Linked DNA regions of Homo sapiens: regions 2 and 3 are each linked to region 1. The links come from fine-mapping of genetic effects on gene expression. A gene starts in region 1. Each other region holds a variant in brackets. All regions are shown on one strand. Distances are from middle to middle. Region 1 holds the start of U2SURP (U2 snRNP associated SURP domain containing). Region 2 overlaps PAQR9 (progestin and adipoQ receptor family member 9). Region 3 has its middle 50 kb from the start of CHST2.

The links. PIP is the estimated chance that this variant, and not a neighbour inherited with it, causes the effect.
Region 2: its variant is the best candidate, but not a certain one, in a credible set for the expression of U2SURP in whole blood (TOPMed, PIP 0.75).
Region 3: its variant is the best candidate, but not a certain one, in a credible set for the expression of U2SURP in whole blood (INTERVAL, PIP 0.72).

Annotation. Positions count from the first base shown.
Region 1 is chr3:142,996,752-143,007,571 of GRCh38, reverse strand. It overlaps U2SURP (U2 snRNP associated SURP domain containing), which reads right to left and starts at 6,002. Exons shown (of 28, transcript NM_001080415.2): 1 at 5,899-6,002. The coding sequence starts at 5,943. It overlaps PAQR9-AS1 (PAQR9 antisense RNA 1), which reads right to left. Exons shown (of 5, transcript NR_125393.1): 4 at 9,078-9,172; 5 at 6,482-6,545. It overlaps LOC100289361 (a long non-coding RNA gene), which reads left to right and starts at 6,105. Exons shown (of 1, transcript NR_034032.1): 1 at 6,105-6,727. RefSeq lists enhancers at 5,641-6,290, 5,565-6,564, 7,564-8,564.
Region 2 is chr3:142,946,693-142,957,512 of GRCh38, reverse strand. It overlaps PAQR9 (progestin and adipoQ receptor family member 9), which reads left to right. Exons shown (of 1, transcript NM_198504.4): 1 at 1-2,928. Among named protein-coding and RNA genes, the nearest start is that of PAQR9, 12 kb to the left of the region's middle. The variant G/A (reference allele first, on the strand shown) is at 6,299.
Region 3 is chr3:143,064,778-143,075,597 of GRCh38, reverse strand. No RefSeq gene overlaps it. Among named protein-coding and RNA genes, the nearest start is that of CHST2, 50 kb to the left of the region's middle. RefSeq lists enhancers at 1,024-1,805, 2,588-3,370 and a silencer at 3,025-3,223. The variant A/G (reference allele first, on the strand shown) is at 4,763.

The DNA.
Region 1 (10,820 bases):
TACTCGGGAGGCTGAGGCAGGAGAATGACGTGAACCCGGGAGGCGGAGCTTGCAGTGAGCTGAGATAGCACTACTGCAGGCCTGGGCGACAGAGCGAGACTCTGTCTCAAAAAAAAAAAAAAAAAAATCTCTTGAAAGGACCCAAAAGCTGCTGGAGGGAGTGGCTCATGCCTATAATCTCAGCTACTAGGGAGGCTGAGGTGGGACGACTGCTCGAGGCCAGGAGTTCAAGACCAGCCTGGGCAACATAGCAAGAACCCCTGTCTCTGGAAAAAAAAAAAAAGAAAAGAAAAGAAAAATACAAAAGGAAGAAGTGAAAAGGCAGACTAAGGGAAGTTTGACACAATAAAGTAGCATACACAAGAGAAATTTATTTTAAGGCAGAGAAAGCAGACAGTAGAAATGTGGGGAGGGACAGCAAGAAAATCCAAAAGGAAAAAAGATCATTCTGATGGCTGCTAAAGGGATAAAAGTGAAGCCAACTACACTACCTGTTGCCCTATAGCTTGCTGGCTGAGAACAAAACTAGTTTTCTTCTGGCTGCTCCAATTTTACTTTAAGTGAAAACCCCACATCTGAGTTTCCAAATTACCAAGCTATCCACAGCAACATTCCTCCAACACTACCATTCTGCCTAGTGAGCTCTCCATTCGTGTATCTGTCTCCTAATCTCCCACGTTTCTCCTCTCACCCTCTAAGAGAAGCAACTTTCATCTCCACAAGTTTAACAATCTCTCCTATAGGAAGCATAACACCACCTTAATTGCATTGTGCTGACTCTCTTCTACTAGACAGCATGCTCCTCAAAGATGGGTACATTCTTTTTTTTGAGACGGAGTTTCGCTCTTTTTGCCCAGGCTGGAGTGCAATGGCATGATCTCGGCTCTCGGCAACCTCCGCCTCCCAGGTTCAAGCGATTCTCCTGCCTCAGCCTCCCGAGTAGCATGTGCCACCATGCCCAGCTAATTTTGTATTTTCAGCAGAGATGGGGTTTCTCCATATTGGTCAGGCTGGTCTTGAACTCCCGACCTCAGGTGATCCACCCGCCTTGGCCTCCCAAAGTGCTGGGATTACAGGCGGGAGGCACTGTGCCCGGCCGCTAAAAATGGGTACATTCTTATTTAACATTTTCTAACTCAACATCAAGCACAAGATCTGGCAAGCGACAGAGTCTCAATATACTTGACTTGTCAGAACAAGTGCCTACCACCAAACAAAATTACACTCCACACTATCAACATACTATGCTGTCCACTCATTAACAACAGCTACCTAGCTTAATACCACTATCCAAGCCAAATCAAGGTATCCATCTTTAAAAAACATTCACAAAATCATTAATACAAGCACTATATAAATAAAGTTAAATAACAAACCTAAGATGATTTTTTAAATTATTCAAAACACTACCAATACTATATGAAAAGTTGTAAGTACACTCTGAATAACCTATAGTTTATCTAAACTGAGGAAGGGCCTTGTGAAAAAACTTAACTCAAGGAATATATGTCTAACACTACCGTTAGCCTCAAGTGCTACTGACAAATGTATCTTGCTTTCAAAAACGTTATTTCAGCAAAATATCCAGCTCACAGCTGATGTGCAATAAAATGTTAAAACCACCTATACTAGAATGAGGCAAATAGTTTGTAATATTACTATTTTTGATTTTAATATCTTGTAGCAAGTTTTTCTTTTTATTCCAAAAATGATGGCTCCTTGAAAAAAAGGGTGGAGGGTAGAGGGGTAGATACTTCAACCGGCATACTAAATGAGCTCTTCTCTCAATGATACCCAGTAAGGCAAATGGGTATCTTTCTTAGGTTTACTTTCCAAGGAAAACAAAGCTTCAGAAATAAAAAACAAAAAGTGAAAATAAAAACTGGACTTTCAGAAAACAATTCAATCCAGAAAGATAGGAATTATTTTTAAAACCATACCAACAGGCATATTCTAGCACCCGTGCTGCAGGTTCAAGTTTCGAAAAAGTTATCAATCGAGAAAATGGAAGGAAGTTCAGTTCTACCTTCCAGACCAAAACAAAACCTTCTACCAAAAAAACTACCTTACATTTTAAGATAAGGTTACAACCATAAACCATAATAAAGATTCAGTTTAAAATTGGCAAACTGTTTGAAAGCCTGATTTTCAAGGTTTGTATTTTGTTTGGACTTTTTCATAAACTTTCAGGTACCACAAAAAATGAAAACTGGCAGTAATAAATACCTAAGGTTCACAAGCCTTGAACAGGTCCTCAGTTTACTTATTTCTTAAAAGTGATACTTTTTGTTAATCAGCAAAGGCAGTCAATCAAAACAGTTCCCAAAGCAATTCAGCACTGGATGTCCAAGGAAGCCTGTAGTATTTTGTTTTATCCATTCACCTAACTCAATTTTTGGCGATACGGCAAAAAAGAAAAAAAAAAAAAAAGCCATAGTCACAGAGTGAAATAGCAGGGCACACAATTACATTACATTAGCAATATTACCAGCACAGGAGATGGCAGAAGGAAAGAAAATACTACATTTTCTTCATATCCTAATTTTGCTGAGTAAGCAAACAATTGACAGTCAAAAACAGTAATTTTTTTATAAATTAAATTCTAAGGAAATATGCTTAACAATTTTATAAGTAAACAATTACAGGCTCTCTCTCTCTCCTCTCAAAATGAAAGCTACTACATAACATCAACACCCCTCCCCAACCAAGCAATATTTTAGACTAGTGATAAACAAACAAATGCACAGGAAAATTTTAGCTCATTTCTAGAACATTTGTTAAATGTCTACATCTGCCAGGCTCTAAAATGCAAAGCACAACAAAATTACACAGAAAATTAAAGTGCACAGGGGTCTCTTCATTAGGGACAATTATGAATAAAGGTAAGTCATTCAAGTACATACACATACATAAAGTATCATTTTAAAACTAGAAGCCAGGCACGGTGGCTCACGCCTATAATCCCCGCACTTTGGGAGGCCGAGGCGGGGGGGGGGGGTCACAAGGTCAAGAGGCCAACAGATGAAACCCCATCTCTACTAAAAATACAAAAATTGGCCAGGCGCCTGTAGTCCCAGCTACTCGGGAGGCTGAGGCAGAAGAATTGCTTGAACCCAGGAGGCAGAGGTTGCAGTGAGCTGAGATTGCACCACTGCACTCCAGCCTGGGCGACAAGGCAAGACTCCCTCTCAAAAAAAAAAAAAAAAAAAAAAAAAAAACACCCCAACTAGAAGACCTGTAGAGGTTATCTAATTTAATCTTTTTATAATTAAGAAATGTTAATAATTTTGCCATATTGTACATTTAAAATTAACATTTTCCCAATGTCTAGAAATATAATAAGCATCCCTATCCATATTAACGGGAATGTAACTACCAAAGAAAACGACGAATCATGAAACAGAAGTATCTGTTCACTCCATCTGTATTGTAAAATATAAGCCACTCATCTGTTCTTTCCAGAGGAAAGGAAATCAAACCAGATATCAAAGGCTAGAAATTCTAAATACTGTAGTATTAGCCAAAATGATCTTACAATTTCTCTAATAAATTATGTGTTAGAAATAAAAAGCAGGGAAGCAGGGCGGGGCACGGTGGCTCACGCCTGTAATCCCATCACTTTGGGAGGCTGAGGCGGGTGGATCACGAGGTCAAGAGATCGAGACCATCCTGGCCAACATGGTGAAACCCCGTCTCTACTAAAATACAAAAAATTAGCCGGGCGTACTGGCGGGCGCCTGTAGTCCCAGCTACTAGGGAGGCTGAGGCAGGAGAATCACTTGAACCCGGGAGGCGGAGGTTGCAATGAGCCGAGATTGTGCCACTGCACTCCAGCACTCCAGCCTGGGCGACAGAGCGAAACTCTTTCACAAAAAAAAAAAAAAAAAAAAAAAAGAAATAAAATAAATAAAAAGCAGCTATCTGGGCAGTCATTATGACAGCTGATGACTTAGATTCCAAATCACAGGATTAAAATTTATCCTGACATTTTGAAAGCTAAGAACTTTTGATTTCCTCTAAAAACAAAAAGAGGGGAAAGAAATTAAGATTTATTATGTACTTCATAGACATTATCTCATTTGATCCTTATATCAACCATGTAAAAAAAGAATTATATCTACATTACAAATGAGGGAATTGAGGCTCCAGAGTTTAAGCAATCTGCCTTATTATCGCAAATATAATTAATTACCAAGTCAGGATTTGAACCCAAATCTCTTGTTAACAAAATTCATAATCTTCCCACTACATTATGCAGCCTCCAAATTAGTTAAGATATTCTGATTCCTTTCACAGACATCAGTAAGAAATCTGCTAATAGCATCAAGAGATTATAATCTAAGGCAATATAAACAGAAAAGATTACTGGATAATCCAATAATTTATTTATTGAGAACAGCCATACATTCAGTCATGAGAAGCACTATTTTAGAAGGAAGCCTGAACACAGACATTGAAATGTTTTCAATGTATCCAAGACCTCAAGTAGGGAATACTTAAAATATTACTTTGAGAAGAAACAAAAATTGTGAGGCTTATGCACGACTTGTTATGAACGTAGCTAGCTTTAGTAATAGCTCCCTAACGGTATGTTCTTGTCAGGAGTCTGTTGAGAAGAGTTGGTAGAGCTCGCCCCCAAAGAGAGGGAGACGAGAAAATGTACTGAGGAGGGGGAAAAAAAACTGACACAATACCTTGTAAAGAAGCCGAAACTGGCCCCTCACCAAAGTTTCTATGTAACTAAACGATGTCTGTTAAGACCATTACTAATTATGAATTAATTATTTTGGTGTACATCGTTCACCAAATGGCATAAACAGTCGGATTAGAGAAAGCAAGTAGAAAACGAGTTATGATGTTTCTCAGAACTGTAAACGCAAGCTTCTCTCCTACCGTAAATTTAACTTTCTAATAGCCGATTTACAGTCACACACTCTTTAAGATTTAACAGTCCCTAGCACCTGAAAGTGTTACACAGCTTCTTGCATCAGCATCGGAAAGTTTAACTACCTCGTGGCAGTACCAATTACTTTTAATATATTCGAGACCAGAAACCCAAACCAAAAAACGATTAAATGTCCCGCCCAAGATGGCAACTAAGAACCCAACCGTACTAATGCTTAACTACTACCACAGCTCACTGGTTTCACAATACGTGCCCAGGGTTCCCTGTAAACACAAATGCAATTTACTAATCGTATGTAGCTTACAAGTCTACGGAGCTTCTCTTTTCACTGTTTCTTCAACATAAAGAAAGAGACCACGAGTCCTCTACCCTCAAAAGTGCTTTTTACTTCCCGTTAAGGTAAAGACCACGTGTAGACTGTACATTAACCTTGGCTATGCAGCACTGCAAAGGAGAGCTGCTCCCGCCTCTGCATTTCCCACTCCGTGTCTTTGCCCTAGTGGTCCTCCCCTCACAGCTGGCGACCCTAGAGGTTATTCATTCCTTGGAGGGAAACTGAGGGAGGCCGGAAGTGAGTGAGATCCAAAACCGAGAAAAAAGCAGCAGACATTTAAGCACCGGGAAGCGATTCCCGCCTCTCTCCCAGGCGCTGTCTGGCGGCCTCAGGGCGCAGGAAGCTGAGATACAGGAGAGCGTTTTCACTGCTTCAGACCTCAATCTGAATTCCTGATTTCACTCCAATGCCAAGCGCGGGCCGAAGCACTCACGCCTCCACCCACTGGGCACGCCAGTCTCGAGCTGAATCCCGGCTGGGACTATGGGGAGATACCAGGCCTCTCAACCTGCGCACAACGGTGCGGCGGCGCCCGGGCCTACCGTCGCGACTAGAATGCAGACCCCAATCCCAATCGCCTCTCACAGGCCAGAAGCGTCTGTGGGCCCCAAACGACAGTGGTAGATCCGCTGACTTACGAAATTTTGTCAGAAATTACCTTTGAACTGGCCTTCTGAGATCCGCCTGGCGTTTTGTCCGCCATCTTGAGCTTTGCCCCTCCTTCGGCGGCGGCAGCAGCACGGGCGAGTCGAGCACCGAAAGAGCGGATCTCAGTGAAGCCCGCCAGAGGCGCCTGCAAGGCTGAATAGTCGACTGTCGAGATAGCGACCTTAGGGGCAGCCGCTCACGTGACTTCCGGTGTCAGTAATTTCCTCAGCCGCGCTCACTCCGCTAGTTTTCCTGGGAGTCACGGTGCTTGGTCGCGTTATTGGGTCCGGGAATTCAGAGAATCAGGGCCAGCTGATACTTCACCCTCTTATCCCAACGCCAACCCTTGATAGATGCGAACCAGTCGTATTTCCTTTGTGGGAAAGGAGTCGCTTTTTAAAGACGTGCACTGGCCATCTAGGGAGGAGCTTTTACTTCAACTCAAAATAGGACTGGAGCTGACTGGTGACCTGGCGCTCGATGGACGGAAACGCTGTTCTTGCCGCTTCGGCAGCTCCCATACTGGTGGGAGAGGCAAACTTGCAGTCTGCTCATCTTAAGATGGTGAATGTTGAGATAGGGTTGCTCCCGAAAAGCCGAGAAGAGGAGCCGTTTGACCCAACTTGAGGGTGATCCGATAGACACTCTTTAGGGCGTCTGCAGAGTGGGTGCGCGTGGAGACAGTCAATAAGAGAAAATCGTAAATACAGATGGTATTCTAAATCTAGCATGCATGTAAAGTTGTGTGACATTTTAAAGATTACATTTTACACTTTAGTATTGTTTTCATTTTTAATCACATAAATGGGGGAACACCATATTAAACTTTTCTGAACTTAGTACTTTTTTAAAAAGTTCTTAATCAGGGCCTAGATTCAAAGACGGAAAGCTTGCTTGAGAAGGCCATGCCCGAATCAGGCCAGGCAAGGAAAGAAAGGACATTCCAGACAGAGGGAGTAATTGAGGTAAAAGCCTGTGGCATGAATCAGTACAGCCGATCGTGCAGGTCACCTAAAGCAGTCGTTTTATTAGACCAGGTGTGGGGAGGGACGTGGTTGGACAGGGGTGCGGGTGCAGGTTCACACAGCGCCCTGAGGTCACCATCGTGCTTAGGAGTTAGAATTCTGTTCTCAGAATGAAGATCGGCCTTTAACAAGGTTGAAATGGTCAGATTTTTATTTTAAAGTATTGCTCTGAGGACTAGGGTGGGAGTGGAGGGCGTTTGTGGACCTCTCCCTAAATCATTTATTCAAAATATTTTTGAGCCCCGTTTTGTGTGTAAAAGCCTGCCCAAAGTGTTGTAGGGCTTACAGAGACAGACAAACATGCACTGTCTTCATATGATTTAAAACTTAATGAGAAATGGAGGAGACAAGGAAACCGCAAACTGACACTATGCATAATTAAATTGATGCTGCAAGGAAGGATCAATAGCTGAGGGACCTCTGAAAGAAGTAATTAATTCTGAGAGTAGGAGTGAGGAAAAGAGACGGGGCGGGGCAGGGGGGGGGGTGGTCATAGAGAAGAAAGCATTTGAACCAGCTCTGAAGAAGTAGAATTTTGTTGAATGGCGGGGGTGGGGAGCGAGGGAAGCACTTAGAACAGGATCTGACACAAGGCTGGCTCTCAAGAAAGATTAACAGACATATATGCCAGCCACTAAGGAATCAGCAGGCCAGGCCTCCTATTCTCTGTGAGGGTATGAGGGTAGAAGAACAGACAGTAAACAAGAAATGATCTGAAAGTGACAAGTGCTACACATGAAATTAGAATGACTTGCACCCTCCAACCCAATTCAATTTACTTCTACTGCTGGATTCTGTCATACTTTTTCAGTTCTGGGCCTCTTCCCTCAACCTTGCCCTGCCCTCTCATTGAAGTCTAATCCAATTCTACTCTGGGTGAAGATGTCCCTTCCTCCAGGAAGGCTTACAGTCCTCCCTCCCCACCAATCCTAAATCAGAGACCCTTCTGTTTCCAAGGAACCTATACTTTACCACTTTGAAGAGCTCAGCACACTAGATCTTAACAGGGTTTTGTTTTGTTTTGTTTGTTTTGAGACGTCTCGCTCTGTCGCCTAGGCTGGAGTGCAGTGGCGTGATCTCGGCTCACTGCAAGCTCCGCCTCCTGGGTTCATGCCATTCTCCTGCCACAGCCTCCCGAGTAGCTGGGACTATAGGCGCCCGCCACCACGCTCGGGTAATTTTTTGTATTTTCAGTAGAGACGGGGTTTCACCATGTTAATCAGGATGGTCTCCATCTCCTGACCTCGTGATCCACCCACCTCGGCCTCCCAAAGTGCTGGGATTACAGGCGTGAGCCACCGCGCCCAGCCTAGATCTTAACTGTTTATAGGATTAGAAAGTGAAATCATCAGCTGAGATGAAGAGGAGAAGTGGGACTGGGTATGCCTTGTGGTGTTCTGACAATGCCACAGGCTGATTTTGTCACTAGAAAGTGAATATGTGTAGCTTTTCAGTCAAATCCCCAAAGTCCTACTTATTTTAAAAATAATTTTTACTAAATACTCCTGAAGAGTCAAAAACAAAAGAATGCAGACTTCTTTCCTCTCTTCTTTTTTATATTGTAAGCCCCAAAGCAAGTCAGACAAATATGATGTGACTAGAAATAATACGGGCCTTTATTAAGGGTTAAGTACGCTTTTAAAAATTCAAAATCATTGCCAGGCACAGTGGCTCAGGCTTGTACTCCTAGCACTTTGGGAGGCCAAGGCGGGCAGATCAAGGCAGGCAGATGGCTTGAACCCATGAGTTCGAGACCAGCCTGGGCAACATGGCAAAACCTTATTTCTACAAAAAAATATTTAAAAATCAGCCAGATGTGGTGGCATGCATCTGTAGTCCCAGATAGGAGGCTGAAGTGGGAGGACCACCAGAGCACTGGGAATCTTGCCATTGCACTCCAGTCTGGGCAACAGAGTGACCCTATCTCAGGAAAAAAAAAAAAAAATTGAACATCACAATTATGAGTAAGAATTCTTGATACGTGAAATTCTGGCCCTATTACGTCATGAAATTCTGGCCCTATTACTCAAATTACAAATTCAGGAAAGTGAAATAGCATGAAAATAATCCAAATGGAATTTTATGGAATCTGAATAATTAGATTAGTGCTAAGGGACTACACATAAACAGTAAGAATCATGCAATTTACTGCAACTAGTATTACCTTTTTACAATTACAGTAAAACCATGCCATTTTTCTCTTCCCGATGTGTTGATTTTCTGGTGCCCACACCTGCCATTTGTTTTTAAGGCTTCTCCCTGCAGCAGATACGTTCAAGAGAAATTACAAAGTAGTGCCATATACAATACTGAGATGTTTTGTTTGGTTCATTCAGGGAGATTTTTTCTTTGAAATTTGAGCTAGCATTTTAAAACAGAGAGATTTTACATAAAACTCAGGGTTTCTAGCCTTTCTTGAAAAATGGGGAAGTCTGGCAACACTGGGGGACAATCCAGGTGAGGTGGCCTGCAGCGACTTCTAGGGAAGGGGGCTATGAACACCAGTTTAGCCACCAACTCATCATACACGGTGGACAAATTCCCCATACCCAGCCTGCTTGTAGGCATTTCAGTTTTCTACTTCTGATGTACAGTGTAATACTTACCTGGGGTGATGATCAAAACATTACCAACCAGTTCCCCCAGGCACCAGCCAGAACTGACTTGTTAGTAAGGTACAGGAGACTCAGTGCCTAGGGCTCACAATAATTTTTAGACCTCCCCACCAAAAATGTTTTGATTTCTTTAAGGAGGAAAAAAGTGGAGTGGAGAAAGTATTTAACAATACAAACAGCTGTGGAACCTGTGCATGCTGAAAGATAGAGACCTTAAAAAATGATTGCCCCAAAGCTACAGCCTCCTGTATTGTGCCAATGGACTGCTCCTACTTGGTGGCATTTTCATTCTAGACAGTTTTTAAACAGTTTTTCCCTGCTCTCTGGGTTTCAGGATATAGGCTGGTAAAAGGAACACTCCATTTGCTTCTTTGGCATTTATTGAGTTTCTAGCTTGTGCTAGGCTCTGAAGAAAGAAGATAAAAGGAGAGACAACTAAAAATCAGACTTAATGTCTTCTGCTAAGACAGATCCTAGCTGCTTCTAGGAATAATTAGGAAACAGCCTTCACGGAGGTGTGGTCAGTGTGGAATGGAAAATTCCTTCTGCTGCACTTGACTGCCTGCCCCACACCCACCCCACAACGTAAGTGTTATGAATAAGGTTTTAGTAGCAACAGCAGCTGCTCCCCCTTTCTCACACACACAAAAATTACCTGACTCACTTATTGATTATATACAGATTCCTTTGACAATAATAATTAGCAGTGGCAGCCAGGCGCAGTGGCTCACGCCTGTAATCCTAGCACTTTGGGAGGCCAAGGCAGGTGGATTGCCTGAGCTCAGGAATTTGAGACCAGCGTGGGCAACATGGTGAAACCCCTTCTCTACTAAAATACAAAAGAAATTAGCTGGGCATGGCAGCGTGCACCTGTAGTCCCAGCTACTCAGGAGGCTGAGGCAGGAGAAATGCTTGAACCCAGGAGGCAGAGGTTGCAGTGAGCTGAGATCACACCACTGCACTCCAGCCTGGGCAACAAAGCGAGACTCCGTCTCTACAAAAAATAATAATAATAATAATAATAATAATAATTAGCAGTGGCATTTTTTTAAAAATGATGTCAAAAAGTATATAGCCCAAGAATACACTGGTGCCATGTTGAAAATAATAGAAATTGCCATTTTAACTATGATCCTAGTGAGAAGGAAACCTTTACTGTGTAGGAATTATTTTATCAACAAGGTTAATAAAATCTAGGAGAGTCCAGATGGCGTACTGTGGAAATGGAAATGAGCGTTCCTGAGTGTGTGTGTGTGTGTGTGTGTGTGTGAGTGTGATAAAGGAGGACTCAA
Region 2 (10,820 bases), 50 kb after region 1:
TAATGCTCTCTAGCCTTTTAGGATCTTTGTGTTGTAACTTATGAAACATGTCTTAGAAAACATTAATCTGGAGGAAATCATTAAAAAGTGTCAGAGGTAAAAAAGATAGGAAGAATGCATGGGAAGGGGAGAACAAAGAGGATTAGAGTCAAACAGTCAGAATGGGGCAGCAAGTTCAACTGTGCAGTCAGCCTGAGTTTTAAATTTTGTCCTTAGAAAAGCATGTGAACTCCCAGGGTGTTAGTGTTCGAGTAGACAGGCAAGGAATTCTGTTTGTCAGCTTAACCACATCTTGTAGCGTTTGACCTGAGCACGAGTGTCCAGGTATATTTTGAGTGGTACATTTATCTCCTGGCTTAAAGCCCTTACTTTGTTTCCATAAAATTAGGACAGAGGCAAAAAGGCATTACGGGATAGCACCAGCCAATTGTACATCACCTTTTGAATCATTTTCTTGAAGGATTGTCAATATTCTCTGACATATATCACCTGACAAAAAGCGAACAAGCCTAGACAAACTGAAAAAGGAAGCATTCAGTGGTTGGAGCTGAGCACTACTGTGTTCTTTTGTGAGAGGCCACACGTTTTCTTATTGAAGATTTGGCTTCTTCGGTATTGTGAATAATTATTTCTTAATTGTGAAAATGGATGTCAGTTCTTCTTAGTCACTCTTCCAAAAGCTAATATAAATTTCTGTTGTTGTCATTTAAAAAAGGATAACTGTATTGCATTTCTGGTTTGCAGATTTCTAACCAGTTTGTAGGCATTTTTGTTCTAGAGTGGCTCCTTAAGAATCTGTGAGCAAGTTGCAGAATTAGAGTGTTTATTTATAGGTCAGGGGCCAAGAATGCTCATTTAGCTGTTAATTGTGGCAGGATGTGACTTTTGAAAGCTCTGAACATATACCTATATGCAACAGTATGCACACTTATTTACTATTTAGCTCAGTGGAAAAACAGCCTGCTCTTTGAGCTTTTGAGAATGTTTCCCAATGTATTGTGCTTCTAAATGTAATGCACTTGCTTTAATGCTTTTGTTCTCAATCAATCTCTGGAAGCTATTCCAAACATGGCATTTCTCAAGGAAAATTTCTTGAATGTGCAAAATTATTCTCCAATGTGTAAAAGTGACAGGCCACCTTTCCCTCATGCCTTATACCTCCACCCAAAATACGCAATAAGCACTCAAGGCAGAATGGGGGGTCTTCAGGTGGTCATTTGGCCGTGCTGTAAAGATGGCCCTGCTTCTCCCAGTACACCATGATATTGAAGAAGGACACTGTGTAAATAAACTCTTGTTTCTAGATAAAGCATGGGGACACAATTTCATTTCTTCTTAGTTCCATCTCTAGTTGGAAAGCATAATCTGTTTTTAATATGCTGGATGCAAAAAATAAAATTCCTGGGAAAATTTTTTAAAAAAGTATTTTAATTTTATATTTGTAAAGTTTCTAATAGACATTTGTTTGTAAAAACAGGCCTTAGCACATAAGTGAGAACCAGAGCTTTTTGGAAAGACTCATCTTTATCCGGTGAGTTTAATCACCTTGAGCTCTTACTCAAATGATAAAGACCTAGTAGGTCTTTAAAAATGTAAATAATGTATAGTTTAAAGAAGGATACAAATCATTTTTTAAAAAAGAAGAAAACACATGAGATAGGTTTTAGGTGTGTCTCATGGCTAAATTTAAAAGTCTTTTTAAAAATTCTGGTTAGAAACTTTATTAAATTCCCTCTTCCAGCAAAACCTAGCACAGAAGGTCTACTTTTCAAACAGGCTAGTTTTCTTTTCTGGAGGCTATGAACAAAATTATTCTCGCCAATCAACTGAGTACCAAGGCAATAAAGAGGTGAGGCACCTTTCACTTTGATGAGTTTATAAGCATGGTGAATAACGTAGCCAATAAAATGTACAGCCCTGGAACTCTGTCCCTTGTTTCTTCAGAATAGAAAGAAGAATAAGCCCCATGCCATCACTATATGGACCAGAAAAAGGCTTTCTGTGTTTCAGGGCTGGGGGAGGATTCTGTGGCTGCTTTTTTTTTTTTTTTTTTTTTTTTTTTTTTTTTTTAATTTGTATAGACCATGTGGTCGCTCTGAACTCTCTTCATTTCAGCCATCTCCCAGGCCATTTTCACTACCCTTGAAACTTCACTTTCCACATATCCAGCTTGAAGAGAAAAGATTTCTAAAAGGATTCCATGTGTATTTAGGCCTTCTCCAACCATCTGCCTTATGAGGTTCACCCATTTCCAAACAAAGGTTTTAAATACGGTGACTGTTCTTGGATTTGCAAGAATGTACAACCAGCAGGTCCCCTTTTGCAGTAAAGGGCATTATACTTGAAGGGGCATACTCATTTTTTCCTCAGGTCAGAGGCAGAGGGAAGAGTTAACAGTGATCAAATAGAGACCTTCATGTGTCTGTTTTTTGTTTTTGTTTTTAAGTTCATTTAAGGGTGATGACGGAGAAAGAAGGGAGTAAAAATGATGCGCGCACAAAGAAATTTTTCCCATTGCTTGCCAGATTCATTCTTTTTAGGCTACCCTTACTCCAGTCCTTACCTACACCCTAAAGAACTGTATTTAGCTAGCAAGAGAGGCATTCTCAGGATACGTGAGCTTCCAGGCATGGACTAACATGTGGTTTCAAATCAATAGTGTATTCTAACAGAAAAGCGTTACTTAATCTTAATTCTCCATTATGTGATAAAATAATCTATAGAAATAGGTATCACTTTGGCCAGTTCTGTGCATGTAGCTGAAAAAAAAATGTGACACATTTCTGTTGTATGATTTGCTATGATTTTGGTTTCCTGAGACATTTGTTCCCTACAGTCTTGAATATGAAATTCTGTGTAAATAATATGACTATGCATTTTTGCTGAAAAACAAATGTATGAAATAAGAATAAATTATTTGTAAGCACAGTGTTTAGGATCGTACACATCTGTGCATGTCCAACAGTTATCTTTCAGCAACAGGGTATTCCTAAATTAACAGTAAAATATTCATAACACTAATAAACAAGATAAGAAAAAACATTACCCTTTTCATAAAATGCAGCAGGCAGAAGGCAAGAGTATAAGTTTATCCTGAAGCACCCTTAGTATATTACTTTTTTATCATATTAGATAAATTAAAAAGAAAATTCATGTGTTACTTTGAAGCCATATCTTGTAAGAAAATACTTATATAACCCAGGTTATGAAATGTTTTCTTCCACCTTTCTGTTTTTCAAAAGCATATAGAGTCCATGGGCTTCTGTGTAACACATCTTGTCCCAGAACCTTGGTGATGTGTGTGAACTTACAGTATCTCTGTCCTAAATAACCCCAGCAAGGGAGATCCAACTTCAACTCTTAAACTTTGTGGTGATGGCTAAGTCTTTAAATCATGTTAATTATTGTTTCAGAGGTTTTTGGTTATCAGGAACAGAAAACTCTCATGAAGGAAGAAAAGGTTTGTAGGAGGAACACTGGGGAGTGCACATAGCTGACCACCCAGGCCTCAGGAAGGAAGGGAGCAGGGCAGTGCTAGAGATTCTGGTGAGAAACCCCTGCCTCTCCAGGGCTCTGCCACCAGATAAACTAGCTTCAGGGCACTGCCACCAGATGAGCCATGGTCAGCTTTTTCCTGGCTTTGTTGTGTCTGTCCCCAATTCAAATTCCTGGAAAAGAGTATCAGATTGGCCTACCTGAGGTCACATGGACTCCTCTAGAGACAAGGTATGGGTGCCTGTGATTTGAGCCCTTTCCAGAACCGCATGGAGGGTGGAGGTTAGTTCCCACAGGAAGGGATGATGGGCAGACAAAAACAACAGCTGTCCACTTCATCCAACCCATTGGCTGTCTGGTCCACAGGCATTCCACTATAATCCACACTCCTGAAGAGTGTGTGGACAAAGATCATGGGAGACTGGCGGTTTGAGCCATGTGCACTGTGTAAAGTGCTTTCCAAGCCAAGTGTCTTACCAGTGTGGGGTCCCTGTTAAAGCTCCGGAGCATGTGGAGGAGGGAAGAAAACCATGCTAACAGCCCAAAACAATAGCAACCACAGCCCAGCCCCTAGCTGGCTAGCACACACTCTCCTTTTTTATATACGCTTTCCTTAATGTAATACAACTTTTATTTGTACCATCGAAGCACTCTTGTCCCCTTTCCCAAAGACAACCCAAAGCTGCCTTCACTTAGAACAGCAGCAAACTTCCAGCACTCAGGTTCTCCATGTGAATGAAGGGAATTCCCTTCATTCAGGTCAGGATGTGACTAAATAAGACATTCAGCCACCCCCAACTCACTGTAGAAAGGTGGAGAATTGGCTAGCTGAGAGGCAAACTCCCACCCCGAACAGCATACCATTTCTAATGGCGTACTGTGCCACCAGTATACGGCAGCCATCACCCCCTGTGGCCTAGGATGGCCAAGGCCTCCACAAGCTGGTAGTGGAATGAGTTCTTCAGGTTCTGTGTGCTGGGAAGATCTCTGTCTACCTTGCTCCAGGGCCACTCCTAAGAGGGCTGCTCCATTTGGGCTGTCTCGTATCTCTTGAGCCTGTGCCAAATATCTGCTTGTTTGCTTTTAGATTCACGTTCCCATACTTCCCTTCATCTGCTCTGTATTGGAGCTGATTCTCAGCTCTCTTGCCCTCTGGCTTTTTGTTAGGTTCTGCCAAGGGGACAAATCACGGAAGATTGGATTGGAACAAAAAGCAGCAGAAGGCAGGTAAGTTTTCCTGTCCCTCCCCACTCTTCTTGTTTTTTCCTGGAATCCTCAGCCCTGGCTGCTACTAACAGTCACAGTGTAATCCTGAGGGAAGACAAGATAAGAAGAAAGCCAGAACATAGAGTGGGGCCAAACAAAGTAACTCACAAAGGAAGCCTTGATCAAACTGTGCTTGAGGCCCACCTCTACACCTTTGGACTTTTCCATGTGAGCCAATACATTTCCTTCATTTTACAATTGAGTTTAAGTTATATTTATGCCTTGTAATCAGAAGTATCTTAACAGATCCATAAAATTTGCTAACTTCTCAGCCATGTATAACAGGATTTGCACAGCTCCCATCCCACCATGACTGAGCCAGTCCCACGTTTTAGAATCTACCTATTAGATATTTGTGATACTTCATTTTTTAAGTACAGATATGCTGTATTAGGATTCAAAGCTACCCAGTGACCCCGAAGTGATGCCTGAACTGCTCTCTCCCATTCTTTATTGCAGATATTTTAAATATCTGACCCTACCACTCCCACCCTCTCCTCAACTCTGATCTTACCACTTCCCACCTTTTCAAGAACCACACTCTATCCATTACACATTGTTCTCCTGTATGTTCATCAACTACTTCTACTCAATAGGATTCCTCCTACAAGAATTTAAAAATGTACTACTAGTCTCTCCCACCTTCTAAAATGAGAAAGTCACCCTCTCCCCACTATGTCACACTCTAACAACACCCCCCCCCCTTCTTTTTCACAGCCAGGCTTTTTTGAAAGAGTAGTGCACACCGCCTTTGTTTTCGTACCTCCCACTCACTCCTTTACCCACTGCATTCTGGCTTCATTAAGCTCACTAGAATGATTCTTCTAAGATTTCCATCAGCCTCCTTGTTGATGGATAGACTTTTCTGAGATCCTCTTTCCCATTCTGTTCTCTTTGAAACACTCTTCCTTTGGCCTGTGTGACTTTTGTACTACTCTTTTACAGTCTCCTCTGCTGACTTTCATGCCTGACATCAATTTTCTCAAAGAGTGAAGATAGAGCATCTATACCGGTATAGCTGAAGGACTTTGGTCAGTGGCTTCCTGGTTCTGCCACTTTCTGTCAGCTTTCCTGCTCAATTTAGAGACATTCTAATTCTTGTTCAGAAAACCTTGAGTCCACTCCTGTAATTCTTCTAGTGAGTTTGTAAGCCAACCAATGCCTACTAATAAATCCCCTTTAGCACCAACTAGCTTCAGTAGATTCTGTTGTCTGCAATTGACCCCAAACTGATATATCAGGTAAGCAGAAAAGGATGGTGATCAGGAATGCTCTTTATTCCCCAAATCAATCATTGGCAAGTAGTCTACTGGGCCTTGAATTTTTTATCTTTAATTTTCCTTGGCAAAACAAAGCAGGTTCTGAATCAGACAGCTACTTCAGAGAGTTTGATTCTATTTCAAAGCAAAAAAAGAAACACTAGGAAAATAATTACCTAGGAATTTTTTTCCATAATGTTTACTTAAAATGGGTAAAGGGAGACACAATATGGATACTTAGAATATATGTCAAATGAAAAAGTCTCAAATAAATCCAG[G/A]CTTGGTTCAGTGGTTCATGCCTGTAATCCCAGCACTTTGGGAGGCCAAGCAGGCGGGTCACTTGAGGCTAGGAGTTTGACACCAGCCTGGGCAACATAGCAAGACCCCATCTTTATAGAAAATTAAAAAATAAAAATAACTAAAATAAAATAAATCCTATGAACAATAAGTGCTATTCTCATGTATCAATGTCATCTATATAATGTTCATATATAAATTCAACCCCTAATAACCAAAAATTCACTAAAGAGTATTCAGAATTCTAACACTGGGTGAGAATCCTGTAAGTCTTTGATCTAAAATATTAACTGTGGTCCTCCATTCCAGTGGGGAATGGCCAGAGTGAGTCAGGATCTCAGCACTGCTTGGTTTCCTCTTTCCCTGGACAAAGGTATTTATCCCTGTAATGCATCCCTCTGCTTCTGCTAGCAGTGCCCTGAATTTCCTTTGAGGAATAATCCTTCCTACTGAAGCTTGGTGGGACTGCAATCCAAGGTAGCCCTGCAAGCCCAGAGTTTCTCTCAATTCTTTATTCTCCATGACTTGCCTGCACAGGTCTTCATATAATTCTCTGAGTTACCCCATAGCCTTTCAATACATTATTTCTTTATTTTTTGTTCCTTTTTCCCACCTTAAGCTCATCAGAAGGTTCCCATTTCCTGTAATGAAAGAATATTGACTGAGGACTTAAGAGTTTCCAGTATGGGATGTAAGGAGCTTAGAAGTTGTCACTCCATCTTAACAAGTAAAAAGCTGAACTGAAAAATCAACAACTCTTCTTGGGTCCATCAGAGACATGAAGTCACAGAGCAAACTGCTGCCCCCCAAAATTGGAGAGACATAACAGGTAGACACAGAGAATCACAATTTAACAGAGCAGGAACCCACAAGAAGAAATTTCTGCAAGAACCAGTACCAAGTTCTTTTGTTCCCTGTACATCATGACTAGTTTCCAACAAAAAATTACAAGGCTTACCAAAAGACAAAAAACACAGTTTGAAGAAACAGAGCAAGCATGAGAACAGGCTCAGATATGACAGGGATGTTGGAATTATCAGGTTGGGAATTTAAAATAATTATGCTAAAGGTTCTAATGGAAAAATAAACAATATGCAAGAACCAACAGATAACGTACAAAGAGATGAAAGTTCTGAGAAAAAAATCAAGCATAAATGCTAGAAATCAAGAACATTGTGACATGAAGAATGCTTTGATGGGCTCATTACTAGGCTAGACCCTGCTGAGTAAAGAATCAGCTTGAGGCTATGTCACTAGAAACTTCTAAAACTGAAAAACAAAGAAAAAAAGACTAGAAAAAAATCAGAAGAGAATATTCAAGAACCGTGGGGCAATTACAAAAGGTGTAACCTACACTTAATGGGAATACAAAAAGAAGAAAGGGAGAGGGGAACAGAAGGATCAAATAAACACCCACTCAAACTCTGCAGCTTGAAAGGAAATGATATTCCACATAGAGACAAGACTTTTGAATTACTTTCTCTCTTCCCTTTCTCAGAAGTCCACTATCAGTTTCTGACCTCCAAAAACTTTTTTCTTAAGAGCTGAAAAAATTCCTAAAAGAAATGGAAGATGGAAGATTTAAGGAAACTGATTAACTTTGCAATTTATAAATAAATTTTAAGCCATAGGATTAATAAGAGGTTTCACATCCTGCCTGCTCCCATAATGTCCATTCTCTCTATCTTGATACTTTGCAGTTGTAAAAATATATGTGGAAAACTGAAAGGTGGGCAGAAGTGAACATTTATTAGTACAAAATGTAATTCTCTAAGAGCTACTTTACTACTTCAGGATGACCTGAGTGAAGCTAATGGCCTAGTTTTTACTCCAGCTCTTATTAATTCAGTGATTGACTGCATTAGTTCATCCCTACCTCACTGTCTATCTGTTTTGAGGGTAGGATCTATAAATATCAGTTTAGAGTTCTCTCAGATTCTTACTTTAGTTACACAGAAATGTCATAAAGTACAAAAGGAAACAGGTTTAAGGAAATAAATAATTCTACAGATACAGGTAATAAGCCAACTATAAGAAGATCGTGTCCCAGTTCTCGCCTGTTGTTATCTTTATTTTGGTTTGATTTTTTTGTTTTGATTTGATTTTTTTACTTTTGATGTTGGTGTTTTCTTTTTGCCAAGCTCCTAGAGAAAGCATCAAATATAAAAGCTAGCAGATGTGAAATCCTGCCAGAAGCCCCTCACTTTGATTTCTGGTGTTACCTATGTCTTGCCAAATGTAAAGCTTGTTAATATACAGGTGCCAGTTTGTCACATAAACACGTGAGGGGATCCAGGGCCAGTGGTATAAATCATGGTGCCTCGCCATGAAACCTGGCTACAATGAACTTAAAGAGAACAGCTTAAAAGGAAAAGCTGGCCGGGCGTGGAGGCTCACGCCTGTAATCCCAGCACTTTGGGAGACCCAGGCAGGCGGATCACCTGATGTCGGGAGTTCAAGACCAGCCTGACCAACATGGAGAAACCCCGTCTCTACTAAAAATACAAAAATATTAGCCAGGCATGTGGCGCATGCCTGTAATCTCAGCTACTCGGGAGGCTGAGGCAGGAGAATCGCTTGAACCCGGGAGGTGGAGGTTGCAGTGAGCCAAGATCGTGCCATTGCACTCTAGCCTGGGCAACAAGAGCGAAACTCAGTCTCAAAAAAAAAAAAAAAAGGAAAAGCTCGGGGGTGGGGGGGTTCTTGGCATTAGGTGGCAACTCTACCACTTTCTCTCCATTCAACTGTTTGACAAAGTCATTTTAGTCCCCAGGCCATCATTTGCGCTATTGTGGCAGGGGAACTGTCCTAGAAGGATGAGTCACAGCCACACTGAGTCAGACTCAAGTATGGCGAAGATGAGGTTCTCCCCTTGTTCTTGGGCATAACAAAATGGGTCTTGTCATACGAATACCAGAGTATCTTTTAAAAAAAACAAACATTTTTCTCCTGGTCCTCGCTGTCCAGTCCCGTAGCTGGTTTTGACAGACATCTGCCAAGCTTCAGTGTCACTTGGCTGCCACTAAAATCACTGGTGATTATTCACAATCTCCCTTAAGAAATCTCTAACAGGAAACAGGTGCCATCCTGAAAAATGGGACGGTGTGTCTGGAACAGCTGCCCAGGTGTTCGGAGCATCTTAGGGTCCAGCCTGGTCCTTGTGTCTTGGTGCACTGTCCCCACTGTCCTTGCGGTGGACATGGAGTTGGATGACTGCCCAGGCAGGCAACCTTGTGGAGGGGCAGTCTGAAGTTCCTTAACAGTAGGGAGGAAAAAGCGGGACTTCCAAGGTAGGGATGGGGGATTCTGACATTCCAGTGGTCACACACACACACACACACACACACACACACACAACTCAGAAACACCCTGGTCACCGTGAGACGATCTCCAAGCTGTAAGGGTTCCCAGAAAGGACCGTTGGAGAACCATGGGAGAGCTGAGGGGAACTGGGCACAGGCTGTCAGGAGTGGGGACAGGCAGGAAAATGGCTCGGGCTGGACTCCCGCAGGCCGATGCAGGCTCAGATATGCTGCCTGCGGGATGTCGTGCTTTCCAGGCGCGGGAGGCGTGGCAGGGGCCGGGGCGCCTGTCGGGCGAGGCAGCATCTCCTGGGGCAGTCCCTGAGCTCCTCGGTCGCGGGCAGGTAGATCCGACACAGCTGGGCGCAGGCGGCGGGGTCGGCCTGGGAGTCGGCTTGGGTCTCAGGGAGAGCGCGGGGAGGCCAGCATGGCAGGGCGCTGCGGCCTCGGAAGGGGAGCCAGGCAGGCGCCGAGAGGACACGAACTCGAGGCCTCCAGCGGCGCAGAGGAGAGGGAGTAGGCGCCGGGCTGGGCACGCCAAGGTGCTCTAAGTTCCCGCCTGCCCCTTCCTCCTCCTGTGGCTTCTTGTGTCTTGCATGGGCGGATCTGGAGTGGGTTCGACTTCTCGCGCCGTTATTTCATCCTCTTATCACCTTAGGCAACCTACTCTGCCTCTCATCTTCCATTTCCTCATCTGTAAAATAGAGCGGGAAGTATTTCTTACTTCATAGTGGTATTGTCAGAAGCGTTTGAACCAGAGCAACTCCATCTTGAATAGAGGAGGCTGGGCGAAATAAGGCTGAGACCTACCAGGCTGCATTCCCGGGAGGTTAGCCATTCTAAGTCACAGGATGAGACAGGAGGTCGGCACAGGATACAGGTCATAAAGAATTTGCTGATAAAACGGGTTGTAGTAAACAAGCCAGCTAAAACCCACCAAAACCAAGGTGGCAAAGGGAGTGACCTCTGGTCGTCCTCACTGCTACACTTCCACCAGTGCCATGACAGTTTACAAATGCCATGGCAACGTCAGGAAGTTACCCTATGTGGTCTAAAAAAGGGAGGCATGAATAACGCCCCCCCCCCCACGTTTAGCATACAATCAATAAATAACCATAAAAATGGGCAACCAGCAGCCCTTAGGGCTGCTCTGCCTATGGAGTAGCCATTCTTTTATTCTTCTACTTTCTTAATAAACTTG
Region 3 (10,820 bases), 68 kb before region 1:
ACTGCAAGCTCTGCCTCCCGGTTCATGCCATTCTCCTGCCTCAGCCTCCCTCGTAGCTGGGACTACAGGCGCCCGCCACCACACCCGGCTAATTTTTTGTATCTTTAGTAGAGACAGGGTTTCACCATGTTAGCCAGGATGGTCTCGATCTCCTGACCTCATGATCCACCCACCTCGGCCTCCCAAAGTGCTGGGATTACAGGCTTGAGCCACCGCGCCTGGCCGAGAATCTGCATTTCTAACCAGTTTCTGGGGATGCTGATGCCGCTTGTTTAGGGACCACACTCTAGAACCACTGGGGCACTGTTTTAGGATACTCTAAGGGAGCCAATATACAAAGGTTCCTACTGGCCCCCAGTCCAGCTGCTCCTTGGGTCGATGGCCCTCAGACCCCAGCTGGGTGCACTGAGCGCCTCCTCCTTAGGAGTCCAACTTTCCCAAGACTTCAAGCCAACTGCGGTCCATGCAGCTCCTCCCTCACCACAAGGACAAGTACTCACTGGCCCCGCCCCGGTTTTCCTCCAGAGACCCAGTGTAAAATGAAAACGTGGGGCCTCTCTTTAAAAAATTAAGAATTTCAATACAGTGACAGTGGAGCATTAGATCAAGCATGGCCCTTCTCCCCAGGGCTTGGCCCCTGGGCCCCTGCAATTCAGAGCAGTGAGTTCTGATTCTTTCTGGGCCCCAGCCTCCTGTCTCCCTCAGGTTTTCAAACAAGAATCCATCCTCCCTCTGCTCCAAGCCCCTCCTTGACTCTACAACTTCTGCCCCTCAAGAAAGGGGCATTGGTATGAGAGTTTTAGAGGAAATGTTAAATGGCTGTTAAAGTTGTAAAATGTTCCTACTCTTTGATGCAGCAATTTCACTCCAAGAGATTTATTCTTCAGTGGATAGATTCCCCGAGGAGCTCTCCCAGTGCTCAAAGCCTATTCACTCTTACGGTGCTTGTAATAAGAAAAAATAAAAATAACAACAGCTTAAATGTCTCTCAATAGTAATTAAAGAATGAGGCAGATTTATAGGTAATGATCAGGAAGTATACCCAAGATCTCATAAGTATCAAAGGCAAGTTGAAAACGTTGAGGCGGGTGGGCATGCGTGTATGAGTACATGAACAGAAAAACAATTCAGGAAACTTGAACAAAAAATTGTTAGCCATCGCCACTGGGAATTTTCACTTTACAGTTTATGCACTCTACATTTTAAATATTTTTTTTTTTTTTTAATTGATCATTCTTGGGTGTTTCTCTCAGAGGGGGATTTGGCAGGGTCATAGGACAATAGTGGAGGGAAGGTCAGCAGATAAACAAGTGAACAAAGGTCTCTGGTTTTCCTAGGCAGAGGACACTGCGGCCTTCCGCAGTGTTTGGGTCCCTGGGTACTTGAGATTAGGGAGTGGTGATGACTCTTAACGAGCATGCTGCCTTCAAGCATCTGTTTAACAAAGCACATCTTACACCGCCCTTAATCCATTTAACCCTGAGTTGACACAGCACATGTTTCGGAGAGCACAGGGTTGGGGGTAAGGTCATAGATCAACAGCATCCCAAGGCAGAAGAATTTTTCTTAGTACAGAACAAAATGAAGTCTCCCATGTCTACTTCTTTCTACACAGACACAGCAACAATCTGATTTCTCTATCTTTTCCCCACCTTTCCCCCTTTTCTATTCCACAAAACCACCATCGTCATCATGGCCTGTTCTCAATGAGCTGTTGGGTACACCTCCCAGACGGGGTGGTGGCCGGGCAGAGGGGCTCCTCACTTCCCAGAAGGGGCAGCCGGGCAGAGGCGCCCCTCACCTCCCGGACGGGGTGGCGGCCAGGCGGAGGCGCCCCCACCTCCCTCCCGGATGGGGCGGCTGGCCGGGCGGGGGCTGCATTTTAAACATTCTTATTACCTCATATTATTTCTGAGTATGTGTAGAATTGAAAAATACTTCAGACCTTAACCAAAGCTGTTTTCCTTCAGAAACGTGGACCACCAGTGAGGGCTGCCCTAAACCCCTGCCCTGTTCCTCCAGCCCTTTCCCTCTTACACCATCATGGTCTCATCCCTGCCATTTTCCACCCCCACTGCCGCGAAGCCTCTCACGAAGCTTGATCTAAGCCTGACTGCAGATGAATTTGTTGCATCTAAAATATGTTGTTCTCCCCAGAAATCGGTTCCTATGAAAACCTAATTTAAAAACAGAAAGGAGGAGAAACATTTATGAATCTTTTAGATCTATGATCTTTTAGATCTATTGCCTTATTAATTTTTTCACTCTGAGGTAACAGATGTATTCTTACTTTTACATTTGGACTTTGGATATGGACTGGGATGCCCACCTGACACCTCAAAGGCAAAGGGTTCCATCGGAGACTCCAAGCCTATCTTTATCTTGACTAAACAGCGGCTTAACACAGAGGCTTATTCTCCACTGAACTAGGCCCAGTGTGTATGTTCCTCAGCGGTATTTTTAAATTCTACACATACTTAATAATATAAGAGATAATAAGAATGTTAAAAATTTAGAGTGTATAAACTGTAAAGTGAAAATTTCCAGTTATGAATGACTAGCCTTTTGCTTGGTCATCCAGGGCCCCAGGCGCCCCCATTTTTTGGCTCTGCTTCCCCTCTGGGTCCTCAGCACAGAGAAAAGGAAAGACATGGAGGACAAGGGAGGTTTTGTGGGCCAGGCCTGAAAAAGAGGTCCCATTTCTCTGGCCAGACTGGGAACAGTGGTGTAGTAGACAAAATAAGGGCTCTCAAAAATGTCCATGTCCTCATCCCTATGTGAACCTGTGAGCATGTTGCCTTAAGTACCAAAGAGACTTTGCAGGAGTGATTAAGGTCAGAGTATTTGTCAGACCTCTGAGCCCAAGCTAAGCCATCATATCCCCTGTGACCTGCACGTATACATCCAGATGGCCTGAAGCAAGTGAAGAATCACAAAAGAAGTGAAAATGGCCAGTTCCTGCCTTAACTGATGACATTCCACCATTGTGATTTGTTTCTGCCCCACCTTAACTGAGCGATTAACCTTGTGAAATTCCTTCCCCTGGCTCAGAAGCTCCCTGACTGAGCACCTTGTGACCCTGGGCCCTGCCCTCCGGAGAACAACTCCCTTTGACTGTAATTTTCCACTACCTACCCAAATCCTATAAAACGGCCCCACCCCTAATCTCCCTTCGCTGACTCTTTTCGGACTCAGCCCGCCTGCACCCAGGTGATTAAAAAGCTTTATTGCTCATACAAAGTCTGTTTGGTGGTCTCTTCACACGAACGCGCGTGACAGTCTTAATATGAGATGATACTGGGTTATACAGGTGGGCAAAGAGGGCCAAACAAAACAAAACAGAACAAATCAAAAACAAGGAAACATGAAGATAGAAACAGGTTGGAGTGACTGTCCTTGAAAGCAGAAGTAGCTACACTCCAGGGAATGCAAGTGGCCTCTTGAAGGTGGAAACGGCAAAGAAAAGGATTCTCTCCTGAAGCCCCCATGAGAAAGCGGCCCTGCCAGCACTGTCAGACTTCTGACCTCCAGAACTGTAAGAAAACAAATGTATGTTGTTTCAAGCCATTAAGTTTGTGGTTGTTATAGCAGCCATAGGACAAGTGGTCCAGCCACATGCCAAGGAGGAAAAGACAACAGAATTTGGTAACTAACAGCAGCCTTTTCCTCCATGGATGAATCAATCCCATCCTTTCTGCTGCAGCCAGCTCTGTCACTTTCATGCTGGGATATTACTACCATTCTACCATATTACTACCTACGGCCTTTTACCTGGCCTAGCTTTGGCGGCCCTCACGCTGGTTTCACCTCACACCAACGTCTTCCCCAGTCTGCACCAGAGTGGTTCTCCTAAATTATATGCCAGACCACGTCACTCCTTTGCTTAAAAGCTCCTGTGGCTCTTACAGAAGAAAGTCCAAAATTCTCAGCCTGGCATTCCAAGTCCTCTGTAATGTGGCTCCTGTCTGCCTCTCCGTCCTTACCCCTCAAGCATCATCTCTCCCGTGAGGGTGAAATGCTAGGGTGATAAGCGGAGTAGACGCCAGCAGATGGGGGTCAAAGGGGCTTGGGTGGGTGCTAGCAGTCCCAGCCAGGGCTTCTATCCTTCCTCCCACTCAGCTTCACCTCAGGTGCCACCTCCTGTCAAGAGAGAGAAAGCCAGGGAAAGGCTTCCAGATGTGAGAAAGGATTTGAGAAAAGTTGCCTCATATACCAATAAATACAATCCAAAGGAGCTTGTTCAAAGTCTAAATCATTAAAAGTACAAGCCCAAACAAATTGTTATTGATTCCCTTGGTTACCAAATTCCTTAGCATGCCAGGCTGGACAGTCATCCCCAGCAAGCTGCATTTGTTGATTTTCTTGGTGTGAAAATGAATCCACAGTACTCCCCAGTGGGGAAATGCCTGGGATGTCCAAGAGAGAGACTAAGGAACTTTCAGAGATTCCAAGCCCTGCTCCTAGCTGATGAGTTGGTGAGCATAACAAAGACATGCGCTCAGGCAAAACTGCAGGGAAGGCAGGAGAGTCATGTCCACTGTCACACCCACCGGCCTTTCTCAGCCCAGCGCTTCCTCCTCCAGTCCCAATACTCCCCAGGTATTGCCCCAAACTTTGGACTGTGACTTATACTCTGTGCCTCCTCCTTTCCTAAGCCCTGTTCTTTCTAAATGACAAAGGACAGCAAGTCAGTTAATCATGTAATATTAGACTTACAGAATCTTAAAATGCAGGTTTTAAGTAATTTTTGCAAAAATTGTGG[A/G]AAAGGACAGAGTGTAGGGAGTAATCATCTGTAAAGTCTACTAACCTACTACTATCATTTTGATATATTCCATCTTAAACTTTATTCGTATGCATATTTTAACATATCATAAATACAATTGTGCAACAGCTGCATAGTCCTCCCAGGCATCATTTAATGGCCTCATAATATTCCTTCCAGTAAATTCTTAGCAGTCTTACAAACTGCTCCCGATTTTTGGATGTTAGAGCTATGTCTAATGTTTTACAATTTGCAAATAAGCCCTGATGCATGCCTCTTTTTCTATATTTTAAAAATTGTTTTCTGCCAGGTGTGGTGGCTCACGCCTATAATCCTAGCACTTTGGGAGGCTGAGGTGAGAGGATTGCTTGAGCCCAGTAGTTCAAGACCAGCCTGGGCAACATAGGGAGACCCTGTCTCTACAAACAAACAAACAAAACAAATACAAAAATTAGCCGGGCATGATGGTACATGTCTGTAGTTCCAGTTACTCAGGATGCTGAGGTGGGAGAATCATCTCAGCCAGGGGAGGTCGAGGCTGCAGTGAACTGTGTGTGCCACTGCACTCCAGCCTGGGCAAGAGTGTGAGACCCTGTCTCAAAAAAAAAAAAAAAAAAAAAATTTCCTTAGACCAGATTTCTAAAAGTAGAATTTCTGGGTCAAAGTGTATGAAAATATTTAAAGCATAATACATTTGGTCAAATTGCATTTAAAACATTGTACAAATTTAAAGCACAATGCACAAAGGAAAAGAATATATCATTGAAGTATTTTTTTATTTCATATTAGTGTTTAACAATCATTTCAAATATATGTTTGCTACTTTAATTAGCAAGAGGAAAAAACAAAAGTGTTTTGGAGTTGGAAGGAACCTCAGATGCCTAGCAGTTCCCAAACGTGGCTGCACATCAGAATTACCTGAAGAGTCTTTAAATAATATGAGTTCCCGAAAGCTCCTTGGAGAAATGGTTGTTTTAGGTGTGGAGTAAAAAATGTACAAGATGAGGCTGGAGAATTTGTCATTTCAGAAAACAAGCTATGAAAGAGTAATGTCATGTGTCAAAGGGACTTCAGGAGCCAACTTGAAGAGGCTCTCATTGGCCAAAGAGGGGAATTCTAAGGATAAAAATTGTGATGGATTGCCGGACGCGGTAGCTCACACCTGTAATCCCAGTACTTTGGGAGGCCAAGGTGGGTGGATCACCTGAGGTTGGGAGTTCAAGACCAGCCTGACTGACACGGAGAAACCCCGTCTCTACTAAAAATACAAAATTAGCCAGGCATGGTGGCACATGCCTGTAATCCCAACTGTTCAAGAGCCTGAGGCAGCAGAATCGCTTGAACTCGGGAGGCGGAGGTTGCAGTGAGCCAAGATTGCACCACTGCCTTCCAGCCTGGGCAACAAAAGAGAAACTCCGTCTCAAAAAAAAAAAAAAAAAATTGTGATGGATAAAGCACATCAGTATAAAATCCATGAGGTTGTAATAATACTAAAAATAATAATAAAACTTTAGTGGTCACTTTAGAGAATGGTAATAATATCCCAGCATGAAAGTGACATTGAAAACTGGAAAATAAAGGAAAAAATCAAGCATTGAGGCTGCCTTTCTTATATGAACTGTACTGTGGAGTAAGTCAATAGTAGGTGAGGAAGTTTCTCTATATTATCTCAAGTTATAAGTGAAAAAGAAATGATAAATTTAGGAATCACCAGTTGTGACCCTAATGAATTGGAGAACTCAGGCAATGATGATCAATGGCTGCAAATGTCACAAAGAGACACAAGCAGACATTATGTGGCCCTGAAAGAAGTGCTTTCATCTATGAAGTAGACGTGCCACAATTTTTGAACTAAATCTGATCAAACCTCTAGATTAAATTACTGATCTACAGAAAATAAACTTGGGGAGGCGGGCGGTGGTTGTGGTGTTCAGCAGAATCCAGACTGTGGGAAAGTCTCGTGGACAAACCACCAAGTCTCTGTAACAAGTTTAAAGGGGAAAAAATGAAACTGAGGGACATCAATAGCTTAAAAGTCACTTAAGAGATATATTAACTAATCATAATGCATGAACTTCATTTGAAAGACTTCAAGCAAACTGAAAACAAAAACAAAAACAAACAAAAAAACCTTGTAAGACAATTGTAGATTTCAGAATATCAGGATTTTTCATGATATTAAGTAGCCACTAAAGTCCATGTCTTATACAGAAACATACAAAAATATGTACAATTAAAATTATGTATGGAATTTTAGTACAAATTAAAGTGGCTGTGCATGTCATGTTATACTAGTCTTTCTACTTTTGTATATGTTTGAATTTTCCATAATTAAAAGAAAATATATATACATCAGGTCCTAGGCCCTGACCTGCTGAACCAGAATCTCAGAGGTAGGGACTGGCAGTCTGAGTTCTGAGAGCCCCCCATAACATTCTGATGTAGCTGGTCGGTGGACTGGTGTCTGGGAAACAGTGATTTGACTCAAGGAAACTCAGGTACAAGGACAGTAAATTGCCCAAGCTCCTACAGCCAGTTCATGCAAGAAGCCAAGTTGCCTGACTCTGATCCAGGGTCGTTCTCGAGATAATAGGCTGCCTTTTGAATGCAAATGCATTAGTGCCTGAATGTATTCCTGTTGGGTAACATGATGCTTTGACCCAGTTTAAACGCATGTGTCCAGAAAATGCCCTGGAAGTTGTCTAGGATCTTTCATCACCCTTGAAATCATAGGCGCATGGGGCTACCTGATCCATGAAGACCTCAATGTCTACTGCGGAAAGGGAGGGAGCCTTTTAGCTGCACCTGCACATGGGAATGCAAACTTAAAACTTCCAAACGAGATTATACATGGAGGCCACAAACCTTCCCCAGGTGTCCTCCAAACTTCAGAGTCCAGATATCACACCAGAAGGTAATAGGAACATTCAGAAAAGAGGATGAAGATAGGAAGAATTTTGCTAAGAACAGAACATGAGAATGTCGGAGGTGAGGGGTAACCTGTGAGTCTGGGCTTCTCGTGATAACTGGCATGACCTGGGATGAAGGACTGGGTTATCCTTGGTCAAATGTAGGAAAATGACATAGGAGAGGTTGTGAGAAGCTGAGAGAAGGGAAAGGAGAGGAGGGAGGGCTAGGTGTCTGTGGTTTTCTCATGACCAGTTTTTAATTAGTGAAGGTCTCTCTTCTTGACCTTTGGTGACGGAGTAGAGGCTTAAGGGAGGTTCACTCCTAACCTGACCCTTGTTGGGAAAGGGGCAAACCCCCATCAAAAGCCCCGGCTCCTCCTTGGCCCAGAAGGTAGGAGGTGTCTCATCACCCATGATGATGGGAGTGGGAAGCTTAGGAGAAGTATGATTCACAAGATAAGATTTAGAGGACAAGAACATTAAGGTCCAGTTTCGGATTAACTTCCAGTGCAGGAGGATCCCACAGCATTCCAGCTCAAGAGTCACAGGGGAGGAGAAGTTTCCCCATGACCATATGCCAGCAAACAAACACTAACCTGGCAAAATTACACATAAAAACTGAAAACAGCTGAAGATACGCAAAGACTTACATTTAAGTTTATATTATACAATTTCTTTTCTAAAAATAGCATAGAGACTTATTTAAAAAACTCAGTTACAATAGATTCATACTGGGAGTCTTCGGCCTTCTATCTTGGTTGTCAAAAGCAATCTATGATCTAGGGACAAGGCTGCCACACAGTATGGCATAAGAGGCAGGTGGGATTGCTTTAGACTCACAAATTTCTTCAGATGACTAGACCAGTTACTTCAGTCATCTTTATAGCCTGCCAAAATTTCCCTGTTTTATAGATCCCAGAAATATTCCCAGCTGGGAGCAAGTAATTGCATCCAATTTGAATTACTTTTTAAAATGACATGTCATAAATTCCCAGTGCTGGCAAAGGTGCAGCAAAGCACCCATTCCCCAACATTAGAAGAAGTCAAAAATAGTCCATTTTTGGAAGGCAAGTTGGCAACATGCATCACATGAGCTTTGAAATGTTTATATTCTTTGACCCAACAATTCCAATAATTTTTAAATGAATGAAAACAAAAATGTTATGCAAAGTGATGTTCATCACGGCATTACTTAGAAAAGAAAAAAATAGAAACAACCCAATTTCTAACAACAGGGTCTTGGCAAAGTAACCTACAGTAAATGATCATTTGTAGTCATTAAAGTTACATTTTGTAAAAGTTTATAACACAAAAGGCTAGGTCCATCAAGTGCCGCCTTCCTAGAACTGGAACCTCCAGCAGATGGATAGAGAGGCTGAAGGTTGAAGCCTGGCCAGACTGCCCCCATCTGTGATTCTGGCTTCCTTGTCCTGCCACTGTCTCCTGTCCTGCTGATTCCTACATCTGGCCTTCCAGATGCACTGTCAATTCTCTGAGCCTCCATAGGCTTCCACTGAACTCTTTTCCTGATTTAGCTACAGATGGTCTCTGTTGTTTGTACCAAAAGACCCTGACACACCTAACCAACCCATTAATTACATCATCAGACTCTGAAAAACAAAGCTGCCCAATCCCAGTTCTAAAGTGTTTTCGAAAGTATGTTTGTGGAACCTTAGACCTCTGAGTTGAGTTACGTTTGGAAAATACGTAATGTCTCCCGCCTGGGTATACACAGTACATACTCAAGGTTCTGAGAAGCACTGCTATAAAAAAGCCAATTTAGCCCAGGATTTCCCAATTTAGTTTATCACACAACTCCTTTTTCCAAGTAACATCTATTAACACTCTACAGTGCAGTAGGTAGTTGTGCCAGTGACTACAGAAGCATTCTTTAATGCTTTAACGCTTCTGTAGTCAACACAATTTATAATTTCCTCCTATACCAGCCTAAGAGCAACAGGAGTGCTATGTCCTGATCATCTACTGGTTTGATTTCTGTATAACAGCACTGAAGTGAAGCTAATCTTAAGGTGAATACAACCTCTGTTGCAGGGAAAGGAATCACAAGATCCAAGGAAATGAGGAGTTAAATTATTTATTAGAGAGCTGCTATGTGCTTGGGGCATGCTAGATACTGTATTTATATAATCCCATTTAATCTTCCCAGCCAAGAACCTCCTAACTCATTTCCCTGTTTCTCTTGTCCTTCTCCCATTCTGTCTCTGCACAGCAGCTGAAGTGTCTTTTGAAACTACATCAGGTCACTCACTCCCTTGCTTAAACCTGTCAAGCCCTACCTAACCTCATCTCATACCACACCATCCTTTCCTCACTGCACTTGAACTCCACTGACTGCTTTCCATTTCTCAACACGCCAACATGGTCTCCCTCTAAACATTCTAACTTCCAGCACCTTCGGCCTGGAACACTTGGTGCTCTATCTTCACACAGCCAGCTCTACCTTCTTACTCAACCTCACCACCAGTGTTTCTCCTTGACTACCCTATCTAAGAAAGGTACCCCTCCCTCACTTTCTATCCTACTACCCTGTTTTTCAGTACATTTTACCATCTGAAATTATCTTGTTCAAATTTTTGTCTGATTCCTCCCATTTGTATGTAAGTCCCAAGACATAAGGACCTTGTCTGTTCTATTCATCACTGTATTTCCCCAGTGCCTGTGCATAGTAGATGCTCAACTTGTTGAAGAATCCTGTAAAATAGATGGCATGCTCACGCTGCAAATGAGGAAATGGGCTCAAAAGGCCTTGGTTAAACATCGTGACTGAGACCACACAGCTGGGAAGTGATTGCCTTGCAATGGTTGAAGGCTGAAGGGAGTCTTTGGATCTCTGGAGTCCAGGTATTTTGTTCTATGGTTGGGCAAGTCCCGCTGGGCCACGCAAAACAAAAAGCCAGGTTTTCAAAGAGGCACTCTGCTTTTGTGAACTTTGTCTTTTCAAGCTCTGTATGAGCTCATCTAGATTCATTAAAGATGATCAAGGTCCAAAATTAATCTACGGAAATCACATTCCACAAAAAATAACCGAAGAACTCAAAGATCCTGAGGTTTGGCAACTAGATTTATTTACATATAAGATTATGAAAGTAATTATATCTAATATTTCATCTCTTTGCCCCAGTCTTTCT